Regions from separate parts of the Homo sapiens genome. Here region 2 is reported to be linked to region 1. Evidence: microRNA targets listed by miRTarBase, many of them from high-throughput screens and not tested one by one. Region 1 holds a microRNA gene; the other region holds the end of a gene's coding sequence.

Region 1 (6,102 bases):
TCTAGCTCCTGTCCAGGCTGATGGGGTGTGAGGGGACCCTGGGGAATGGTGTGACTGGTGCTCAATGCTGCATGTGTGTGCCCCACTGGGGACTGCCAGGTTGTTGGGGACGGGGAGGGGGTCTCTGGAAGCTGGGTTCTGATCCTCAGTGAACTCTTAGAAGGCCTTCTGTGGGCTTCTTTGCCTGCCCCCAGCCCAGGGCGAATTCAGGCATGGGCCTTCAGGGTCTGCTTGGGGCAGGACTGGATGCCAAAGTGGCTCTTTAAGAGTGGAGGGCAGGAGGAGCCTTCAGACAGTTGGTTCTGCTGCCCTTTTCTGGTCTCTGTCACTCCCTGCAGCCATCTATGGGCATAGCAGGCACCCTACCCCTGCCTTGGATTTTGTATTGACATGGAGTGATGGCCCTGTGGCCTGGCATGGAGTTTGGGGTGTTGGGCACCTTATTGAACCCTGTTAACCCCTTCTTTGCCCACCCCTACCCCTTCTACTGGGCACCCCAGGAATATGTGACCCTGGCAGAAGTTTTCCAGCTGTGTTCCCGCTTGGACCCCTATGCTTCTGCCACTTCCCCCAGTGTGCTCGCCCAGCCCCTGCCTGACAGTGAGGTACCAGCCACCGAGGGTGCCCACCAATGCCCAAGGACCTCTTTATGGATGGCCTAGATTCCCCCTTGGGCCTGGGTGGAGCTAGGGGGACAGAAGGGTCTGTGTTCGACAGTGAGGGAGAAGGGCAGCCTGCATAAGGGGAGGTTGGGAGTGGTTTCTTTTTTTCCCTGGGGCCTTGGGAGCTTTCTTTAGCTCCTATGGCCTGGGGAGGGGCACGCCTTCTGCTCTAGGATGAGGGTGTCGAGTTGAGAGGACTCTGGCTTTCCTAGGCTGCAGGCTCTGTACTTTCTGCCCTTTCCCTCCCTTCCCCTGTGGGTAGGGCCATCTCATGTGTTCTGGTTCCATTAACCTCTTATATTCCCTCCTGCGTCTGGCCTTGCTCCAAGTACGTGATGCTTGAGCAGCTAAAGGTGATGCGGGGCACCTCGCCCATGCCCCCAGCCCCTGTGCCAGGCCTTTCTCCCTGGGCCTCCGCCTCCCGGGACCTGGTTCCCACCACCTGCCTTCCTCCCATGCTGCCCTCCTCCTCGTTCGCTTCCATCACGCCTTCACCTAAGGTTGGTGGTTTGTGAGTTCTTGCTACCCCCACCCATGACTGGTGTGCTCTGTGTGTGTTTTGCTCCTGCTCACCTGGCCTCTTGGCTCTGGGCCAGCCCAAGGGGAGTGCCCAGTGCCTGCAGGCTCTGTCTGGTGGCTGGTTTCATGGCTGGTGTAGCACATGTCTGTGGTCTGGAAGTTGTACCCTGACTGTTTCTCTTTGCCCTTAGTACATTCAGGGCAACTGTTGTCTCACTGTTTTTCTCTTCTTTTTCTTGATGCTCTCCTTTCTCCCTTCCTTCCTCCCCTTCTTCCTTCACCTTCCTGTCCATTTCCCTGATGTGGCCTTCCTTTTTAACCTTCCCCTTCCTTCTTCCTCTTCTTTCTTCTTTCTCCCTTCTCCTGCCTTTTCCTTTCCCTTTATTTCCTGGCCTTTCCTCTCCATCCTCCCCTCCTGTCCCCTTTTCCCCTCCCCATTCCCACCTCCAGATGGAGAAGCTGCTGCTCCCTGCTGTAGACTTAGAGCAGTGGTACCAGGAGCTGATGGCCGGGCTGGGGACTGGCCCCGCTGCAGCCTCCCCTCACTCTTCTCCCCCGCCTCTGCCCGCCAAAGCTTCCCGTCAGCTGCAGGTAACCCCTCCTTCACTGCCCGTCCTCCCCAGCCTTTGCACCTGTCCACTCTGATACCTCCTGCCAATCCATCAGCCACACAGTACCACCTTGAGTGGAGGCGTCAGCCCAGTCAGGGCAATGAGGGCACCTCTGGGCCCTGAGAGGGTCACTCCTTGGGCAGCCATCCTGGCATGTGGGCAACCGGGGGGCCAGCCTCCATAGTCTAAAACTATCTGATTGAGTGTCTGGTGGAAGAGGATTCTGGAGCTGTGGTCAGTTTGGGATCTGTTTGGTGCCCTGTGCTGAGCTAGGCTGTGGGTCTGGCCTATGCTTGGCAGCCCCCAACACCTGGAGCTTCTCACCCAGTCTGGGGGCCTGACAGGCTCTTGGGCCTGTGGCAACTGGAACTAGTGTGTCCTGGGAAGAACTGCCAGTATTTTGTTCTCCTGGTCTCTCCAGCAGTGACACTTGGAAGCAGAAAACAAAGGGCAAAGACTCTGAAGTGACAGCCTAAGCCTCCTCAGAGTTGCCATGGAGGGCGTGGGCCTACCTGAACCTGCAGCAAGCAACTGACCATGGGGTGGGAAAGGGGGCTGGGCTAGTCTTCTCCTCAGGTTTCCTCCACTGACCAGCTGCAGTGCCTAAGATTGACCATTTAAGATCACCCCTTGAGTGAAGGCACTGCATCTGTAAGACTGTGACCTCAGCTAAAATTTCATGTTTCCTTGGGGAGGAGTTTGATCATGTAAGACTTCTACTGTGTACCCAGCTGGTTAGAGATTTTAACGTGTTTTGATTCTCTGATCATCATCATAGGCCTTTGAGGTAGATGAAGTTAACTCATTTTATAGATGAAACACTGGGGCCTAGAGAAGATAAGTAATCTCTCCAAGGCCACACAGCTAGGAAGTAGCAGAGCTTATGCCACGTCAGGGTTTGTGACACTAAAGGCCATATTCACCACATGCTAGTGCTGCAGGGGAGCTTGGCCATTATTTAGTCTAGTCCTACCCCCTTCTTTTGCAGATAAGGAAGCCAAGGCCCAGAGTAGGGAGGTGTGTGGCCCAAGGTCACACAGCCTGTTAGTGGCAGAGCTAGGACCAGAGGGAACCCAGCTTCTAGTTGGTCTCCTGCACAACTGCCTGACTGACATTAAATCCTTGCATGGGTCTGTTTACAGGTCTTTTCTTAGACCCAGGGTTGGGCTAGGGATTGGCCCAGGGAGGAACAGCCTGGAAAGGAGAATTGGCAGCTGCCAATAGCATCTGGCCATTGGGCTGGCTCAGGAGGCTTGTTGTCAGAGCCAGAAGGCCTCAGAGGCCTAGTGCCAGGGCGGTACGTCAGATCACAGCAGACTAGGTGACATGGGGGAGGTGGCCAATGGGGGAGCCAGGAATCACTGGGCACTATCTTTTCTTTCCAGGTTTACCGCTCCAAGATGGATGGCGAGGCCACCAGCCCCCTTCCCCGGACCCGCAGCGGCCCCCTCCCCTCCTCCTCTGGCTCTTCCTCCTCCTCCTCCCAGCTCAGCGTGGCTACCCTGGGGCGTAGCCCCTCCCCAAAGGTCTGAGGACAGTGGGTGGGGCTGCACATGTGGCTGGGGATGGAGACTTCCACCCTGGGGAGAGGCCAAGACCTTGGGAATGGGGGTAAGGGCCTTCTGAGCCCAGGTCCGAACTCTCCATTCCTCTGCAGAGCGCTCTACTCACCCAGAATGGCACGGGCAGCCTTCCTCGCAACCTGGCAGCCACACTGCAGGACATCGAGACCAAGCGCCAACTAGCTCTGCAGCAGAAGGGTGAGTGACTGCCCCGCCAGCCCACCTGCTCTCCTGAGGGGACCCTGGGTAGTTGCCATGCCTCCTCTATGCTCACACCTTTCACAGGATGTTTTTCCTTTAATTGGGATCTAGGCAAGACCAGAAAGGATTTAGAGTGGGTACCTAAAGAAGAGCTTCCTGGATATTTATCTAAAGCCTTCAGGGCAGGAGACTAAGGGCTTAGGGGGCTGTGACATCTTTCCTAGAGAGCCTAGCCAATAAGGGAACTGCTTGTTGACCTGAGTCGGGTTAGACATTGCCCTCTCTGGAGGGAGGGGATGGATTTGATGACTTCTAGAAATGGTTGCCTGAGATATTGGCTCTGGGGACCCAGGAGTCCTTGTTGCTTGTGTGCAATTTGGTTGTTTTGAAAGCCCATGTCTGTGCCTCTCTCTCCTCTTACCCCCTCTGTGTCTCTACCGTACCCTCTGCCTGGGGTCCCCCACGCCAGTCGAGTCGCTTCCCGCCGAGCCCCTCCCAACCGACGACCCAGCAGGTAGAACGTTGGTCATAGAGGGCATTGCTTTGGCCAGGCAGCCCCTGCCCTGGCATCAGCATGATGTGTCCTGCCCAGGTCCCCACTGCCTGCAGGCAGGGTCCCAGGCTGAGCTGGGTTGGGGTGTCTGCTGGCCTCACCCCTCCAGCTGGCCTCTCTTCTGCCCTCATCTGTGCTCTACCGTGTCTCCCCTGCCTTCTTTCTTGCGTTTGTTGCTTTTGCTTCTGCATTGCAGGGGGGTCTGCATTGGCAGTCTGGGTGCTCATGGGGTTTCTGCCATCTCTTCCTTCTCCCTTCTCCAGCAGGCAGGGTGGGTGCATGTATCCTGCCTAGACCTACTTAGGCCTTGGTTGTGAGCTGGAGCCAACTGGCTGTCGTGCTGCCCCAGCACTACTTGGGTAGGTTTGGTGTCCTATATGGACTCAGGGTGCGAAAGAGCACTGAAGCCAGACTGTGCATCTGTGGCCGGTTGTGCAGGCGACTGAAGCATTGGCAGAGCAGCCAGGCCTGGAGCTGCAGGGGCCTTAGGGAAGCTGCGGGGAGAGGGGGCTGCTCTGTGTTAACCTCTCCCTGCTTGCCCCTCCCTCTGTGTGTTGTGCTGCCAGTGGCCTGCTCCTTAGCTGCGTGGGGAGCCCACTGTGACTCCCATCTGTCTCTCCTTCAGGACAACAAGTGATTGAAGAGCAGCGGCGGCGACTGGCTGAGCTGAAGCAGAAAGCGGCAGCTGAGGCACAGTGCCAGTGGGATGCCCTTCACGGGGCAGCACCCTTCCCAGCGGGCCCCTCGGGCTTCCCCCCTCTCATGCACCACTCTATCCTACACCACCTGCCTGCGGGGCGGGAGCGTGGGGAGGAGGGTGAGCACGCCTATGATACGCTGAGTCTGGAGAGCTCTGACAGCATGGAGACCAGCATCTCCACCGGGGGCAACTCGGCCTGCTCCCCTGACAACATGTCCAGGTACACCCGACGCCTGGGCCCGCAGCCTCCCTCAGCCACCGCCTCAGCTCCTTGATGCACTTCCTCTTCCCCTTCTCTCCCCAGCGCGAGTGGTCTGGACATGGGGAAGATCGAGGAGATGGAGAAGATGCTGAAAGAGGCTCATGCAGAGAAGAACCGGCTCATGGAGTCGAGGGTGAGTCTGACCTGGATCGGGGAGGCAGAAGGTGTTGGGGCACAGAGCTACCTACTGCATGTCAAGGGCCTGTGCTCCACCCCAAGCCCTTCCACCCACATTAGCCTTGCCACATTCCCTTGGGGTAGAAAATGTTTTAAAAGGTTGTATTCTGGCCGGGCGCGGTGGCTCATGCCCGTAATCCCAGCACTTCAGGTGGCCGAGGCAGGCGGATCACGAGGTCAGGAGATCGAAACCATCCTGGCTAACACGGTGAAACCCCGTCTCTACTGAAAATACAAAAAATTAGCTGGGCGTGGTGGCAGGCGCCTGTAGTCCCAGCTGCGCGGGAGGCTGAGGCAGGAGAATGGCGTGAACCCGGGAGGCGGAGGTTGCAGTAAGCCGAGATCGCACCACTGCACTCCAGCCTGGGAGACAGAGCGAGACTCCGTCTCAAAAAAAAAAAAAAAAAAAAAAAAAAAGGTTGTATTCCTCAAACAGGCTTAGGGAGGCTTGGTTTGATTACAACTTCATAGCTCTTAGGAACAGAGAAGGCAGCATAGTAACCATTCTCTAACCAATAATTTCCTGTATGGAAACTTCCAGTTTTTGCATGTTTACTTCTGTAGACTTTTTGGCAACTACAGGAATTTTGATTCCTGTCTACCCGTATGGCAGGCCATTCCTCTTGGGGCTGATTAGGAAAAGCAGGAACTATGAGTGAAGTATAGACCAGAAGAGGAGGCAGATGTCCAAGTCAGTGTAGAGGTGTTGGCAGGGGAACCTTGGGAGCAGAGAGGGCTGACAGCTCCTTCACTTGGGCACGGAGCTGGGATTCAGCAAAGAGGGACCCATGGTTTATCCTGGGCATAGGCAGGCTGATGAAATGTGTGCCTAGGAAGGAGGATAAATAAAGGATC
Region 2 (4,551 bases), not on the chromosome of region 1:
GCCAATATGGTGAAACACCATCTCTACTAAAAATACAAAAATTAGCTGAAAATCACTTGAACCTGGGAGGCGGAGGTTGCAGTAAGCCAACATCATGCCACTGTACTTCAGCTTAGGTGACAGAATGAGGCTCTGTCTCAAAAAATAGTAATAAGAATAATAAAGGAAAAGACACAGAGATCCATCAATTAGTCTAACAATGTCATTACTATTTTTAAAGTACAGGAGAGCACACTGAATGCACGATATTGTTTTCAAAACCTATAGTCAGATTCTGAAGATACTAAAACTTTGTATTCTGTGGTTAATTAGTTTCCTTATTCCTGTTATGCTGCCAATTTTAGCTTCCCTACTTCATACATTTTCGAAAATCCTTCTCAAATGTTTTACCACTGGGACATAAAATCAGAATTTTTGTTATTCTTGGAGTTTTCATCTTCACATTTCTGTTCCTTTTTATGATTTTTTTTTCTGAAAACTCATTTTTAAAATGATGGAAGGAATTTTAAATCACCATTTCCCATCACAGATTCCAAGCAATACATTTTACTTGAGTCAACAGTTATCCTTCATTTTCCCAGTAACAAACTGGTAATGTTGGCCAGTGAATAGTCCACATGTCCAAAAACAACTGAGAGATAATGAAGAGCTTGGCTTTGTTGCTGGATTTAGGTGCAAGTGTAGATAGCCATGCACAAGGACCTATTTAATATCAACATACATTCTTAAATTTTTGATTTAGTTTAGTGTATTAGTCTGTTTTCACACTGCTGATAAAGACATACCCGAGACTGGACAATTTACAAAAGAAAGAGGTTTAATTGGACTTACAGTTCCATGTGGCTAGGGAAGCCTCACAATCATGGTGGAAGGCAAGGAGGAGGAAGTCACATCTTACATGGATGGCAGCAGGCAAAGAGAGAGAGAATGTGTGCAGGGGAAGTCCTCTTTTTAAAACCATCAGATCTCGTGAGACTTATTCACTATCATGAGAACAGCAGGGGAAAGACTTACCCCCATGATTCAACTACCTCCCACCAGGTCCCTCCAACAACACATGGGAATTCAAGATGAGATTTGGGTGGGGACACAGCCAAACCATAGCATTTAAGACTGCAATTTCTATTATAAACTCTTATTCTATAATAGAAATTGTAAGAGTATTGAGTGCTTAAAATCTTCCGAGCACCCCATGATAAAACAAAAACTTTTCTAAAACATCACTGGCTTTTTGTGAGCCACTGATTATAAAGCAGAGGTGGCAAACCCTCCTTGCATAAAATATCACACTTGGGTAAGTGCAGTATGTTATGTGTCTTTAATAATGCCACATCAGCCCCAAGTATTTTTTTTTTCTCAAAAATTGCAGCCTGTGATTCTAACTAATCCAAGTTCATAGGAGGTTAAATCATTCTTCATTGTCTTTCACTCTTTAATAATGGGTAGTTCCTCTTTGAACCATGAACTTAAAAACACTTCTAAAAATTAAGAAACTGGCAATGAGTTTATTCCTTAACAAACACTGTGTTGGCATGAGGTGGGGAGGTAAATCACTCGCTACTTGATTTATCCATGTTGAGATCACACTAAGACAGTGTCCTGTTTCTCACACAGGTTACCTGCTACTTGGCCTTATTGCCATGTTGGTAGTTCTGGAAACCTTCTGTGAACTCCATGAGCTGAAAAAATTCAGAAAAATGTTCTATGTGAAGAAGGACAAGGACGAGGATCAGGTGCACATCATAGAGCATGACCAACTGTCCTTCTCCTCGATCACAGACCAGGCAGCTGGCATGAAAGAGGACCAGAAGCAAAATGAGCCTTTTGTGGCCACCCAGTCATCTGCCTGCGTGGATGGCCCTGCAAACCATTGAGCGTAGGATTTGTTGCATTATGCTAGAGCACCAGGGTCAGGGTGCAAGGAAGAGGCTTAAGTATGTTCATTTTTATCAGAATGCAAAAGCGAAAATTATGTCACTTTAAGAAATAGCTACTGTTTGCAATGTCTTATTAAAAAACAACAAAAAAAGACAAATGGAACAAAGAAGCTGTGACCCCAGCAGGATGTCTAATATGTGAGGAAATGAGATGTCCACCTAAAATTCATATGTGACAAAATTATCTCGACCTTACATAGGAGGAGAATACTTGAAGCAGTATGCTGCTGTGGTTAGAAGCAGATTTTATACTTTTAACTGGAAACTTTGGGGTTTGCATTTAGATCATTTAGCTGATGGCTAAATAGCAAAATTTATATTTAGAAGCAAAAAAAAAAAGCATAGAGATGTGTTTTATAAATAGGTTTATGTGTACTGGTTTGCATGTACCCACCCAAAATGATTATTTTTGTAGAATCTAAGTTAAACTTACTATTTATAATGCATAGGTAACCATTAACTATGTACATATAAAGTATAAATATGTTTATATTCTGTACATATGGTTTAGGTCACCAGATCCTAGTGTAGTTCTGAAACTAAGACTATAGATATTTTGTTTCTTTTGATTTCTCTTTATACTAAAGAATCCAGAGTTGCTACAATAAAATAAGGGGAATAATAAACTTGAGAGTGAATAACCATAGTATTCTGCTGCAATAAATGTTTCTACCCTCTTGCGATAGAATGGTGTCAGATGTCTAACATGTTTATAAACATTTTTTTGAATTGAACAGGTTATGAAAAGGATTTATTAAAAGGTTAAGATACTTTGTTTTGAAAGTACATTGTGATTTGCAGCCACCTAGCACTAAAGCATAGAACTTAAACACGAATCCCTAAATGAACAGATTATGTTACATTAATCTGAGAATTTTAAATTTAGAAGCTAAAATAAATAAAAATCACAGCTGGTTGTAATCTTATGCTTTCATATATCAGAAGTGTGCCTCTATGTAGAATATATATACATATGTGTGTGTATATACATATATATATGTATGTATATATATACATATGTATATATATATATATGTGTGTATATATATATATATATATACGTATATATATATATATAGTCCTTCATAGAAAACATAAAGGTCACATTTAGATGACGTACACAGGATACTATTATATTAAGGATTTTAGAAAAGAAAATGAGAAAGCCCCTGTGTGATAATGAATGTCCACTGACCCCCGCAATGGAGCCTTACCTCCCATGGGTGGCTGCCCAGGAGTTGGTGGTTGAGGGGCTGGTAAAAATCAGTGCAAAATCAGCGCCCTCTGATGAGCCAGCCAAGCACTTTGATCGCGGGCCAGTCTCCTGACAGTGGGTCACTCGCTCAGTAACCTTCTACCTTCTGTACCATGTGCTGCCATGAGTAAATTATTACCAACTGCAGGGCAAAGGGAAAGCATCCCCTTACCCTTCGGAAGATTTGCTGAAAAATCAACTCACAAAAAGGCAGATTAATGAGAAAAGGCATACACATTTATTAACTACCATGCACACAGAAAGAATTACAGAGTGATTGTCCAATATCTCAATAGGGGTTCACATGCTTAAATATCTTACTGATTAGAGGACAGGGAGATGGAAAAATATAGGTGATTTTAGAGGGATAGTATATGATTTTTAGAGGAATCCAAGTGTGCTGCCCCGTAAGCATATTTCCTCCCTGCTGACCATGTCCCTGCAATAGAAGACTGCTGTCATGAGGCCAGATCATTGGTTAAGGGTAGAATAGAGAATCCTTGGAGAATAGAGGCATGCATCCTGCCATAACTGGATCTGCAACATTTCCGATGGTCACAAGCCTTGGTGTGGAGCAGAGTCCTGAGATGCTCATCAATATAAATCACAGAAGCTGGATTACACTTGGAGAGTGTTATTCTATTTTATGCAATGCAGGAAAAAATAATGGCTAGTTTGCTACAGCTGCTTGGCTCTAACATGAGAGGGAAGTTCAAAGTCCAGAAAATGAGGAAGTACGTGAAGAAAAACTTCTGAATCAGATGTGATTAATAAGTAATAGAGTGTAGTACTTAATTTTAGGAACTCGTTTGAATCCGCAGAGAACACATTAAACCTTAATGCCCTTCAGATTGTTGTTAATGTGAAGGGCAAAGTAGAAAAGTAGGAGCAAGTTTTGCCTCGGCCCCCACCCTAGCAGGCAGGAAAGTAAGGGAGGATGTCTTCCCCAGGGTTTCTTTTTGTCTTTGGCCGATGATGCTGCCCTTTGGTCCCCAGGGAGAAGCGAGCTTGGTCACCCAGGAGGAGCTCTGGGTCAGCCTCTCAGAGAACAGAAATTCGGCTTGCTGCAGGCATGACAAGGAGGTGGAAGATGAACAGTGTAGCTAAGCCAGAACTGACCTTGGGAACCCTTTAGTTGGAGGCGAGAGAGTGGGAAGTTGGAGGTAAAAGTGACTACTAGAGAATTCTGGGTGATGAGTACAAGCTGAACTCACTTGCTTAGCTTGAGCCTTCAAGATTGAGTTCCTAAGATGCCTGCGGAATGCCCTCAGGGTAGAACAGCAGCAGAAAGCCTTATCATTCCAGGACATGGTCCTGTGCGTGAACTTAAATGTGACACGTGTCTGGTAGGGATGTTGA

Evidence for each region. The annotated mature microRNA hsa-miR-6716-5p reads UGGGAAUGGGGGUAAGGGCC and lies in region 1 at 3,393-3,412, shown strand. An mRNA with a match to its seed (bases 2 to 7 or 8) in the 3' UTR can be bound and repressed. Matches are read on the target gene's strand: a 7mer-m8 pairs with bases 2 to 8, a 7mer-A1 pairs with bases 2 to 7 and ends in A, and an 8mer does both.
Region 2: miRTarBase lists KCNK1 as a target of hsa-miR-6716-5p. The part of its 3' UTR that is shown has no 7-base or 8-base seed match.

Annotation. Positions count from the first base shown.
Region 1 is chr11:118,640,623-118,646,724 of GRCh38, forward strand. It overlaps MIR6716 (microRNA 6716), which reads left to right and starts at 3,378; the gene lies at 3,378-3,457. PHLDB1 (pleckstrin homology like domain family B member 1) reads left to right here. Exons shown (of 23, transcript NM_001144758.3): 13 at 1,632-1,772; 14 at 3,178-3,318; 15 at 3,450-3,552; 16 at 4,734-5,028; 17 at 5,113-5,203. RefSeq lists an enhancer at 3,353-3,852.
Region 2 is chr1:233,669,657-233,674,207 of GRCh38, forward strand. KCNK1 (potassium two pore domain channel subfamily K member 1) reads left to right here. Exons shown (of 3, transcript NM_002245.4): 3 at 1,615-2,858. The coding sequence ends at 1,874. Among named protein-coding and RNA genes, the nearest start is that of MIR4427, 48 kb to the left of the region's middle.